Linked DNA regions of Homo sapiens. The protein of the gene in region 2 interacts with the protein of the main gene of each other region in a pairwise test. Each region holds a gene or a part of one and is shown on either strand. Other genes may lie near its edges.

Region 1 (3,654 bases), on a different chromosome or scaffold from region 2:
GCAGCAAATCTTCCTGTTCTAAGGTAATGAAGCATATGTCATATTGATGCTGTATTCTGCAAAACCAACTGAGCCCTCTTCCCATTTGGAGCCCACAGCGGGAGGCCTGCATGTATGTATTGATCAGGTGCCTGGGGCTGCTTCTGACATTCATTTACTCAATCGGCATTTATTGAACCTGCTGGGCATAAAGCACTGTGCAAAGCAGTGTCAGGGGCCTGAGGCGTGTGAGGCACACTTACTGCCCCCATCCTGACCATCGCTCTCTTCTTCTCCCCCCACTCCCTGCTGCTGATGATAGCATCATATACTTGTAAAGGGTTTGATAGTTTGCTAAGTTTTTTGGATATACTGTCTCATTTATCCTCAAAACAACCCTCGGAGGCTTTTAATTATTATCCCTGTCTATGGCCATACTACCTGGAACATGCTTGATCTTGTCTAATTATTATCCCTACTTTAATAAGAAAGGGATTTGGAAAACTCTTCTGTTCACTTCCCTTCCCTCTGCTTTTCCAGTCCCTATGCATCCTTCAAAGTGAGTCTTGCCTAGAATCCTCCTGTCTTAGAATCCACCCATATCCTCCTGCCTGAGCCATCACCCACCCTCCTCAGGGTCCTGCAGCACTGAAACACACCCCAGTGCTGCAGGAGACACCTGTTTAGGAGTCTCTTTTTTTCACTGGGGTGTAGACATCACAAGAGTTACAACATGTCTTGCTCATTCCTCCTCTTGTTCTTGGAATGAACAAATAAAAACCATACTATCTTGTTCTTTCCCAACTCTTGACTCTGGTTTGTGGGCAGTACGTATTCAACAGATGTTTGCTGAACTGAATCAAAGGCTCTGTTAGTGCAACTGGGAAGAAAACCCCTTCCCACTTGAAAGGCACCTGCTAACATAGGCTACCAGATTAACAAGTGATGAAAAAGTAAGGCACCCCAAGGGTGCCATAGGTGCTGCATGTTGGGTCCTGTTACAGTCTGCACTATGCTCTTCCCCCAACCCACAAAATGTATATGTTGAAGTCCTAACCCCCAGTACCTCAGAATGTGACTGTATTAGGATACAGGGCCTTTAAAGAGTTGATTATGTTAAAATGAGACGCTTAGGGTGGGCCCTAACCCAATCTGACTGGAGTCCTTATAAGAGGAGCTTTGGACATAAAAAGAGACATCAGGGATGCGCGCACAGAGGAGAGACCAAGTGGGAATGCAGCAAGAAGGCGGCCATCTGCTAGCCATGGAGAGAGGCCTTAAGCAAAATCAGCCCTGTTGACACCTTGATCTGGGACGTCCCAGCCTCCAGAACTATGAGGAAACAGATTTCTGTTGTTCAATCCACCCAATCTGTGGAATTTTGTCATAGCAGCCAGAGCAGACTAATACAGGTCCCTAGAAGTAGACTCTGAAGAGGAAATCAGCCTGCAGGAAATGTACAGGGGAATGCTCTCAGGATCAAGATGTGCAAAGAAGTGAGGAAGCAGGACAGGCCAGAGGGAGAAGTCACAAGAAAGGCATCAGGTGACCCCACAGGGCACCCTGCCAGTTGCCTAAATGAGGGCAACAGGGTAGGGCCTTTAATCCCCTCTCATAGATGTCACAGCTTCTGGCTGTCCCAGGGAAAGCAGCGAGGCCTTGAAAGAGGCATCTCTCCTCAGCAGTGGGCAATTGCCAAAAACTGTCAGTTGCCAACACTCCCAGTAGATGGGGATGAGGGCTGTGGTCCTGCAGGGGGATCTGGGTGGCACTCCACCGTGTCCACTACAGTTGATGTTCAGGAGCATATGCACATGTGTGTGGCTGGGGCGTTTGTGGAGAACTTCCTGGAGGAGGGAGGATGTAAACTGGGATTTAATTTTTTTTTAATAGAGACAGAATCCCACTTTGCCACCCAGGCTGGAGTGCAGTGGCACAATCATAGCTCACTGCAGCCTCAACTCCTGGCCTCAAGTGATCCTACCACCTCAGCCTCCTGAGTAGCTGGAAATACAGGCATGTGCCACCATGCCTGGCTAATTTTTAAAAATGTTTTGTAGAGATGGGGGTCTCACTATGTTGCCCAGGCTGGTCTCACACTCCTGGCCTCAAGAGATACTCCTGCCTTGGCCTCCCAAAGTGCTGGGATTACAGGCACTAGTCTAGGATTTAAAATTATGAGTACAATGTAGATGGCAAATGTGAGCACTGCAGGTCAGGTGGGGTTGAGGGTGAGCATTCATTCTCTGGAGTGCTGGTTACTTCTGCAGGGTAAGGGAGAGTCCCTGTACCCAAGTTCTGAGAAAGGCCTCACACATTTGATTTTCTAATCTATTATTTATTATTGGTTGTTCTCGTTGCTTTTTGTTGCTAATACAAACGTAGTATATTTACACCATAGGAAAAAAAAGGGAAAACATGGCAAATGCCTAAATACCTGTAACCCCTATAAGTACCTTGGTACAGGGCTATCTTTTTGTCTGTTTGCTTGTTTGGGGGTTTTTTTGTTATTGAGATGGAGTCTTGCTCTGTCACCCGGGCTGGAGTGCAGTGGGGCTATCTCGGCTCACTGCAAGCTCCGCCTCCTGGATTCACGCCATTCTCCTGCCTCAGCCTCCCGAGTAGCCAGGACTACAGGTGCCCGCCACCATGTCCAGCTAATTTTTTTGTATTTTTAGTAGAGACGGGGTTTCACCGTGTTAGTCAGGATGGTCTCGATCTCCTGACCTCATTATCTGCCTGCCTCGGCCTCCCAGAGTGCTGGGATTACAGGCGTGAGCCACCGCACCCGGCCAGTACAGGGCTATCTTTTAACACCTGGTGTCAGTCCTGGTTTCTATCGTGTCTTCAGCACCTTATCTACTTGGGGCTTTCACCTCTCACAAGCAGGGGCAGCCTAGCTGGCTCTCACCATGTAAACATCAAGCTGAGCAGGAATTCAGACATCAGCAAATCCACTGCCACAGAGAAGGTACTCTAGCCTGAGAGGTGCTAGTATAACATTCGAGTTGAGGACTAAAAAACCTGGGTTCAAGTCCCAACTCTACCATTTACTAACTTTGGGGCCTCAGCCAGATTATTTGGCTTTCCTGAGCCCAGTTTTCCCATACACAAAATAGAGATAACAACAATTGTGAGTATTAAGTAAGATGACTCATGGCCATGTGCCAGGCACAGGTAAGCCCTTGAGAATGTCAACTTTAAAAATCAAACCAAGCAAAAGAATGAAATGAAACAAGCAATCAGACCACAAGCCAACGGCTCAGCAAGATGAAGTGACTGTTGCTGTTCAAATGCAGCTCACTAGGGTCTGAGGTCCTCCTGGGCCCACTGCCTCCTATGGCCCATCCTGAAAAATAGGTGGCTAGATGAAGGGAGATGGATTTCAAGATGCAGCCACCAACTCCTTGGGAGGAAGTAAAGGAAGGAAAAGACAAAGCCTGTCCCTGGGCCCTGGCTGTAGGACAAACTCAAGTGACCCTTGAGATGAGGTAGCAGCTGGCCTGGAAGATACAGCTCTCCCAGCCCAGCTGCTATAGCCGATGACTGTCATACTAATCACCACATTTCATAGACTCTAAGACAAAATCGAATGAAGATGCACCACTATTTTATATATCACTAGGAAAGAAAAAAATGCCATCCAACCCCAGTAGAGCTCCAAGATGTCATCCA
Region 2 (3,326 bases):
AAAGCCCCAAACTCACCAGGCATTAAATATGCAGAGAAGGAAAGAGAGCAGGGAACTGAAACCAAGGGGGATGGCCATGAATCGAGACAAGACTCTATCTCCTCAACAGTTTCAAATATGCAGGTTAAAATACCCAGGGGGACCAGGATTCCTTCTCTGCCATTAATTCACAAACTTGCCTGCCATGTGATCTTAGCAAGAGATGATCAAAGATTTGCCGGGGCCCATCTGGTTGGGACTGTTACAACCAAAGCAAAAAAAAGGGCGACAAGCTCAGAGGCTGAGGGGCACAGCTTACTGTGAACGGTGGGGGCATGTGGGCCTCTGCCTCACTTCCTTTGTCACTTGCAGGCTCTTCTGTCTGCAGATAACAGCAAAAACTTGCGATGATAAACAAAACTGATCTCTGTGAACAAACACCCTCCAAACACACAGACTATTAACACCCGGAATAATAGTACCAGCTGGCACCAAGCTCCCCAGCAGCCCGAGAGAGGATGGGGTGGGGGAGTGCAGGGATGAGGGGAGGAAGGGAAGCTACACATGGCACCCAACCACCCACGCCTTTCCCATGGAGAAGCAGAATCTGGAGAAGGCTGCTGCTGTGTTGATACAGACAAGGGTGGGCGGGGTTGACAGCGAGCCCGTCCCACCATCTGTTCCTCCCAGGGCTTGACCGGGCAGTGGGGTCGGGGGCCTTTACTTTGTAGTTCAGAGGGCTGAGGTGCTTGAAGCATCCAAAGCAGGTGTGAGCCAGGCAGACCAGGATGGTGAGCAGCAGCACCAGGAAGGTGAACAGAGTGGCGGGGGCCTTCATACCTGGTGATAGAGGGTGGCTAGCCTTGGGGTGGGCAGGGAGGGGCCACCACCTACCCTCACCCTGCTGAGGAAGGGGCCGCACCTGGTGTGGAAACTGCCCGTGACTTCTCCCTCAGGCAGAAAATAAAGGTAAGGCCTAACCCCCCACCCCCACCCCTCAACTCCAGCAGCAAGGATGGTGTCTTCACAGCCAGGAACACACAGAGGGACCCACTGAATGACTGGCATCATCCCTGGTCAGATTTCAGGCACTGGGGTGCCAAGTCAATGGCAATTCTTCAGCCTCCTTGCTGGTCCGTTCCCTCCAGTCTCCAGTGCCCTGGGCTAGAGAGGATGGACCCTCCCACACCCCCAGTCTGACCGGGGCAGACGTGTCTTTCCCCCAGGAGTGTCAGTTTTCTCTCCTCCACGTCCCCACCTCTTCCATGCCAGGAGGTACAAGGAGCTGGGCCCAACCACCAGCCTCAAAGGGCAAATCTGGATCAGCTTCCCCATTTCCTCTGGTTCAGTCCCTGCACAGCTGATAAAGGCACTATCTTCTCTCCAGGGATGTATGGGACAATTGACCAGGCCTTCACAAGGGTTACACCTGCACTCGGGCTAGCTTAGGAGCCAGGCTGTCAACACCACACCCAACCAGCCCCTCACCCTGGGTATCATGTTTTGATTGGACACCTAACCAGTCCTCACTCTGGGCACCACATTCTGACTAGACATGTAACCAACCCTCATTCTGGGTACCACGTTCTGATGGGACACCTAACCAGCCCTCACTCTGGGCACCACATTCTGACTGGATGCCATGCTGATGCTGTGAAAGCAATGAGGGATCTGACTGGCTGGTGGGGATGCAGGGCTGGGAGGCCAAGGGCTGGCCCCAGGTCAGAAGGGCTGCTCACCCAGGCGCAGGAAGGAAAAGAAGTAGAGCCAGAAGAGGCACAGGATGGGGGCTGCCAAGGCCTGGTTCACAGCGGCAAAGTGGATCCCCTTCTCCAGCTTGGCTGGGAGGTAGACGAAGTAGAGGTTGTGCCGGTCCACCATGTGCTTGAGCAGGATGTAGATGAGGCCTGCAGGGGATGGGGCTGTGAGCTGGAGACCTCGCAGGGCCACACAGACACCTCTGTCCTCTTCCTCTCCGGGGCGGCTATTTTGGCAAGGAGCCAGGGCTGGGGCTGCTGCTCTACTGCCTGAACACAAAATGAGGCATCCTGCACCTCTGGCTACTAGTTTTTTTTCACTTTCTCTCTCCTACCCACTTCCTCACTTATCTGTGACCCCAAGGTGTAGGGGATCGGTCAGGGTGGTGGGAGAAAATTTAAGATAAAGTTATAGGAAATAGACACAAACCTTCTTGGAAAGCCGAGAGGTTTGCATAGCTTCAGTAAAGGGTTTGGCTGAAGGCAGCTGAATTCTCTTAAAAGCTTAGGGTGCAGATACATAGGAATGTGGGGGAGTTTACCTAAATAGCTTGTTTACTCATGTGGTCCTAAGACCAACCTTTGATCATCCACTGGTGCATGATTGCTCGCTATTCAGGGGGTCGGCAATGTTAATTACCCTCTAGTGGTGTTTACTCGAGACCTTTGTCATTTAGTCTGTACTAAATAAATGCGAACTTCGCCTGGCATTGAGGACTACACTGCAGACTCAGGCTGCAGAGCCCCTTAGCCGCACTGACAGGCAAAATATCTGTCAGTGTATGTCTGTCTGTCTGTTTTTTTGAGACAGAGTCTCTGTTGCCCAGGCTGGAGTGCAGTGGTGCGATCTCGGCTCACTGCAAGCTCCGCCTCCTGGGTTCATGCCATTCTTCTGCCTCAGCCTCTCAAGTAGCTGGGACTACGGGCGCCTGACACCATGCCCGGCTAATTTTTTATATTTTTAGTAGAGATAGGGTTTCACCATGTTAACCAGGATGGTCTCGATCTCCTGACCTCGTGATCCGCCCACCTTTGCCTCCCAAAGTGCTGGGATTACAGGCGAGAGCCACCGCACCCGGCAGTGTATGTCTTTCATCCGTCGCTGGGTCAGGGTCTGTGGGACAGACCCTGCACCAAGGGAGTCACAGTGTCTGTGATCCTGTCCCCACAGAACACTAACATTCCAGAATCATCTTGGAAAGAGGCTGTTTCACAGTTGGATGCCTGGCCTCAATTCCTCCCCAGCCCTTCCCATGCTGAGCCCCTGTATGTCAGTGCTCCCACACCCCTGGCCTTCTCCCACCCGGCTGATCCCTGCCCTCATCACAGTCAACAGAGAATGAGGCCCAAGGGTCTTACCCCAGGGGTGGCACAGGAGCACACAGGGGACCAACAGAAAGTGGGTGCTGCCTTTTCTATTATGCCAGGTTCTTTTGTTTTTTTATTTTTTATTTTTTTTGAGATGGAGTCTCGCTCATTGGTCAGGCTGGAGTGCACTGGTGCAATCTTGGCTCACTGCAACCTCTGCCTCCTGAGTTCAAGTGATTCTCCTACCTCAGCCTCCCGAGTAGCTGGGATTACAGGCGCCTG
Region 3 (3,654 bases), on a different chromosome or scaffold from region 2:
ATTTCAAAATGTAATATTTCCCCCAAGCCCACAGTCCAGTTCTCAATCTTTGGTATTATTATGATGTTCCTAGTCAATCTTAAAGTGACCTGGAATTTCAGTTCCTTACCTTGGGGTTCTGATGAGTTTCCAAAAAGCAGTAACACATTTTTACCTATTTCCCTTTCTGACTAATGATATTGATTTGCATGACTGTGAACTCAAACTAAAAACAAAATTATGTATAGTTAGGTCATCATGATTTTAATAAAATTGAGAAACCATATTTTAGGACAGAATTTATCTGCTTTTAACCAAAATTTCACTATTGGTAGTCTGTTAAGGAAATTTCTTTCTTGATTCAATCTTCTTATAAAAGGCAGTTATTTCTAAATTGCATATCTTGATGCGAATTGGCTTATCAGATGCTTTTCCGATATAAAAAGGATTTGAATTAGGAAGACAATAGTAAAGATAGGCCCTGAAGATGGGAATTGATGAGGAAGGGGCTATTTTGACAGAAAAAAAGAAAAAAGTAACATCCCTGAATAGAGTCACAGACCTAATAAGAATGTCTCATTCTAGGCAGGGATCAAATCAATGACCTTGGCCTCATTAATGAATGCTATGAACTATTCAAGTGTACAGACAGATAACACTGAAAACTATTACAAATTCACAAATGGAAAGTATTCTGTCTCAAGAACAAGACTGACACAGTGATCATATCCTGCGTTTTATGGAAGTTTATGAAAAGTACCTACACTTACTCTGCAAATAAAAAAAGACCCTCCATATTTGACGTTGCAGTAATCCCATTCTCAACTCCACTCTGAAATTTTGGATGAGATCATCTCTTCTGGCACAAAGAGTATTATTCCAATTAGGATATTTAAGAGTTAGTCTTGGCAACAAGGTTGAGTTCATTATTGGACCTTGGCAGGTCAATTCATGGGAAGTGAAATGACAGGCGCATCCCTGGAGGATGGAGCAGAAGTGCAGAGGCAGAGACAAACTGCACTGCATAGCTGCCTTCCCATCCCTCTCCCACAATCTACATCCCAGACACAGGTCCATGTGCTTCCAATGGGATACTGTTAAAAGGTTGCCGCACATAAGACGAATGCCATTAAAGGTGTAAAAATTGTATCAAGGTCCATGCAGCCTAAATATGAAAGCAAAGGTAGACCCTCACCCACTCAGCCTTCGGTAAACTTATAAGCTCATATCTGTTTTACTTCTGCAGACACATTTGCCTCCTTGTCTCTGTGGAAGGATACTTTGCTGACATGGCAGGATACCTTGGGAGCCCTCAGGAGCTCAGAATAAATCTTCACTCTGATTATGTGCTTGAGAGATTAATCCAATTCTTGAGAAAGTCCATTCATCGTGCTCCCCTTTCCTCGACTCCACAATGGAGTCTAAAGTATCGCCCTTGTCCATCTTCTTTCTTAGGTTCTCCAAGGTCAAGTTAAACAATTTGTATATGTTTTGATTTTTTCAGAAGAAAAGGACTCAATTTAATATACTGTTATTACATTGCCAAATAAGCCATTCATTTAAATAAAATGTTTAATTTTGACGTATTTAGTGTCCTTATAGCTAATAAGGACTAATTGTAAAGCAGAGATAGATATCCTAGGCACTGGCACAAATTCCATATTTTAAAAGAAATTTCTAGAACTGAACTATTTGCTGAATTATTTTGCCAATTATTATTATGGACTTTCTATCCTGGGAAAGCTAAAGGAAACAAAAAAGCAAGAATTAAAAGATTTTCACATTTGTAACTTTTCATCATGGATCTAGGCTGTATAGGCATTTATGAAATTTATGAAGATTAATAGTAAGAATGTAACTGAAAAGAATTAGAGGGAGCACAGTTTTCCCTTTAATTTCTCCATCTCTGGTCATAACAAGCACAACTGTGACTTGACCCATTTCAGTGCCATTTCTGAGCTTCCACGATGCTTTGTTCAAACCTCTATTATAATATTCATCATGGTGTAGAACATTACTTTACTTTTCTGTAATTTTAATGGCAGTGGCTCATCTATGATATTCATCTTTGGAAACTTTTCCCCCTCTTCCTGTATTGCCTTCTCCTGCCCACTCCTAATAGTACCTCGCATAGAAGAAAAGCCAGGTAAACATTTGATAAATCAATGAATGGTGAACAAATGAACGAATGATGACACCTATGGAAAAGGATTACAGAAAATAATAAATTATTCAAATTGTTCTTTAATCAGTTATTGGGTGCTGCTGTTTTATATATAATCCTTAAAAGCTGAATGCCAGACAATATCTATAGAAGGGAAGTTAAAAAATCAATTTTCCTATTTATACTTCATTGACAAGCTTTAGAAAAGGACACATTCTCATTATGATCAATGGAAAAGGAAACTATTTGGATTTCTTATTTGAATATTATAAAACTTTTCTTTCTTGTGGAAGATCCAAATTCAGTTAACTTCACCATACACCATTCAGAAATGGAGTTATAAATAAAAGTGCACTCTAAGAAACACTTTTCTTCCTGTTAGAGTCATCAGCTAAATATTTTCATTTGCATGGGAATATATAAAATGATTACTAAAAGATTAATGGGAAGTCATAAAATATTTGTTCAGCACCATTCTCATATATTGAGCACATTTTCCCTAAGAATACTATTAGTAACTTTAAAATTGCTCATAAAACAGTAAGTTTCCACTTAAAAGTCCGGCAGAATACCTAATGACTAATCCACCTCTCAAAGAAAATTTACCATATGCCATGATAAATGTTCTATTACTTGAATACAGGCGTTCTAGGGAAATCTGTGTAGACTCAGATAGTTGTATGGCACTGTCATCTTCAACCTCCAAAAACCCTTTCTTTCTTGTCAGTGCTAGCTACAATCTAAGGCAATGAAAGAGCCATTTGTTCCACTCAACTTAAAACCAGTATTGCTAAAGTCATTGGAGAAGCTGGTTCCTCTCATTAGAAAAGATTCTAGACTTGTCACAAATTATTCCCAGACCAGAGGCCATGGTAAGACATGTTCCCTTTATTCTCTCTCCACCTCTGTGCAGGAGTTTTATCCCAGTAAAATAAAAATACAGTTAGATCTGGGGTTATCTCATTATAATTATTTGAAGCCTTCTGTTCTACAACACTCCATGAAGGTGTGGGTTCTTTAAACTAAAGAGAATCTCGATCATTCAAAACCTCCAATTAATGTCCAAACAGACCTTAATCTGTTATCTGGGATCTCGGTCAGATGATACCTTGATTCTGACTTCCATTAAATAATGAGCAAAGATTCATTCCAGTTGCCATATTTGATGTCTGAATTATTTGAATTTTTTTTTTTTTTTTTTGAGACAGGGTCCCACTCTGTCACCTAGGCTGGAATGCAGTGGCATGATCATGGATCACTGCAGCTTCAACCTCCAAGGCTCCAGAAATCCTCCTACCCCAGCCTCCTGAATGGTTGGGACTACAGGCATGCACCACCACATCCCGTTAATTTTTGTATTTTTTGTAAAGATGGAGTTTCGCCCTGTTGGCCAGGCTGATCTTGAACTCCTGGGCTTAAGCAATCTGCCTGCATAGGCCTCCCAAAGTGCTGAGATTACAGGGGTGTGCCACCACACCTGGCCCAAATTATTTGGTTTTAAACACTTGTTA

What was found.
Region 1: the proteins of TMEM63A (region 2) and DRD2 interact in a two-hybrid assay, tested with the Homo sapiens proteins (one large-scale study listed by BioGRID and IntAct).
Region 3: the proteins of TMEM63A (region 2) and GPR37 interact in a two-hybrid assay, tested with the Homo sapiens proteins (one large-scale study listed by BioGRID and IntAct).

Annotation. Positions count from the first base shown.
Region 1 is NC_000011.10:113,426,772-113,430,425, forward strand, and holds part of DRD2 (D(2) dopamine receptor), read right to left. Parts: intron 1-3,654. UniProt on the Homo sapiens protein: Dopamine receptor whose activity is mediated by G proteins which inhibit adenylyl cyclase. Positively regulates postnatal regression of retinal hyaloid vessels via suppression of VEGFR2/KDR activity, downstream of OPN5.
Region 2 is NC_000001.11:225,848,194-225,851,519, forward strand, and holds part of TMEM63A (mechanosensitive cation channel TMEM63A), read right to left. Parts: intron 1,887-3,326; coding exon 1,719-1,886; intron 820-1,718; coding exon 704-819; intron 362-703; coding exon 299-361; intron 1-298. UniProt on the Homo sapiens protein: Mechanosensitive cation channel with low conductance and high activation threshold. In contrast to TMEM63B, does not show phospholipid scramblase activity. Acts as a regulator of lysosomal morphology by mediating lysosomal mechanosensitivity.
Region 3 is NC_000007.14:124,755,741-124,759,394, forward strand, and holds part of GPR37 (prosaposin receptor GPR37 precursor), read right to left. Parts: intron 1-3,654.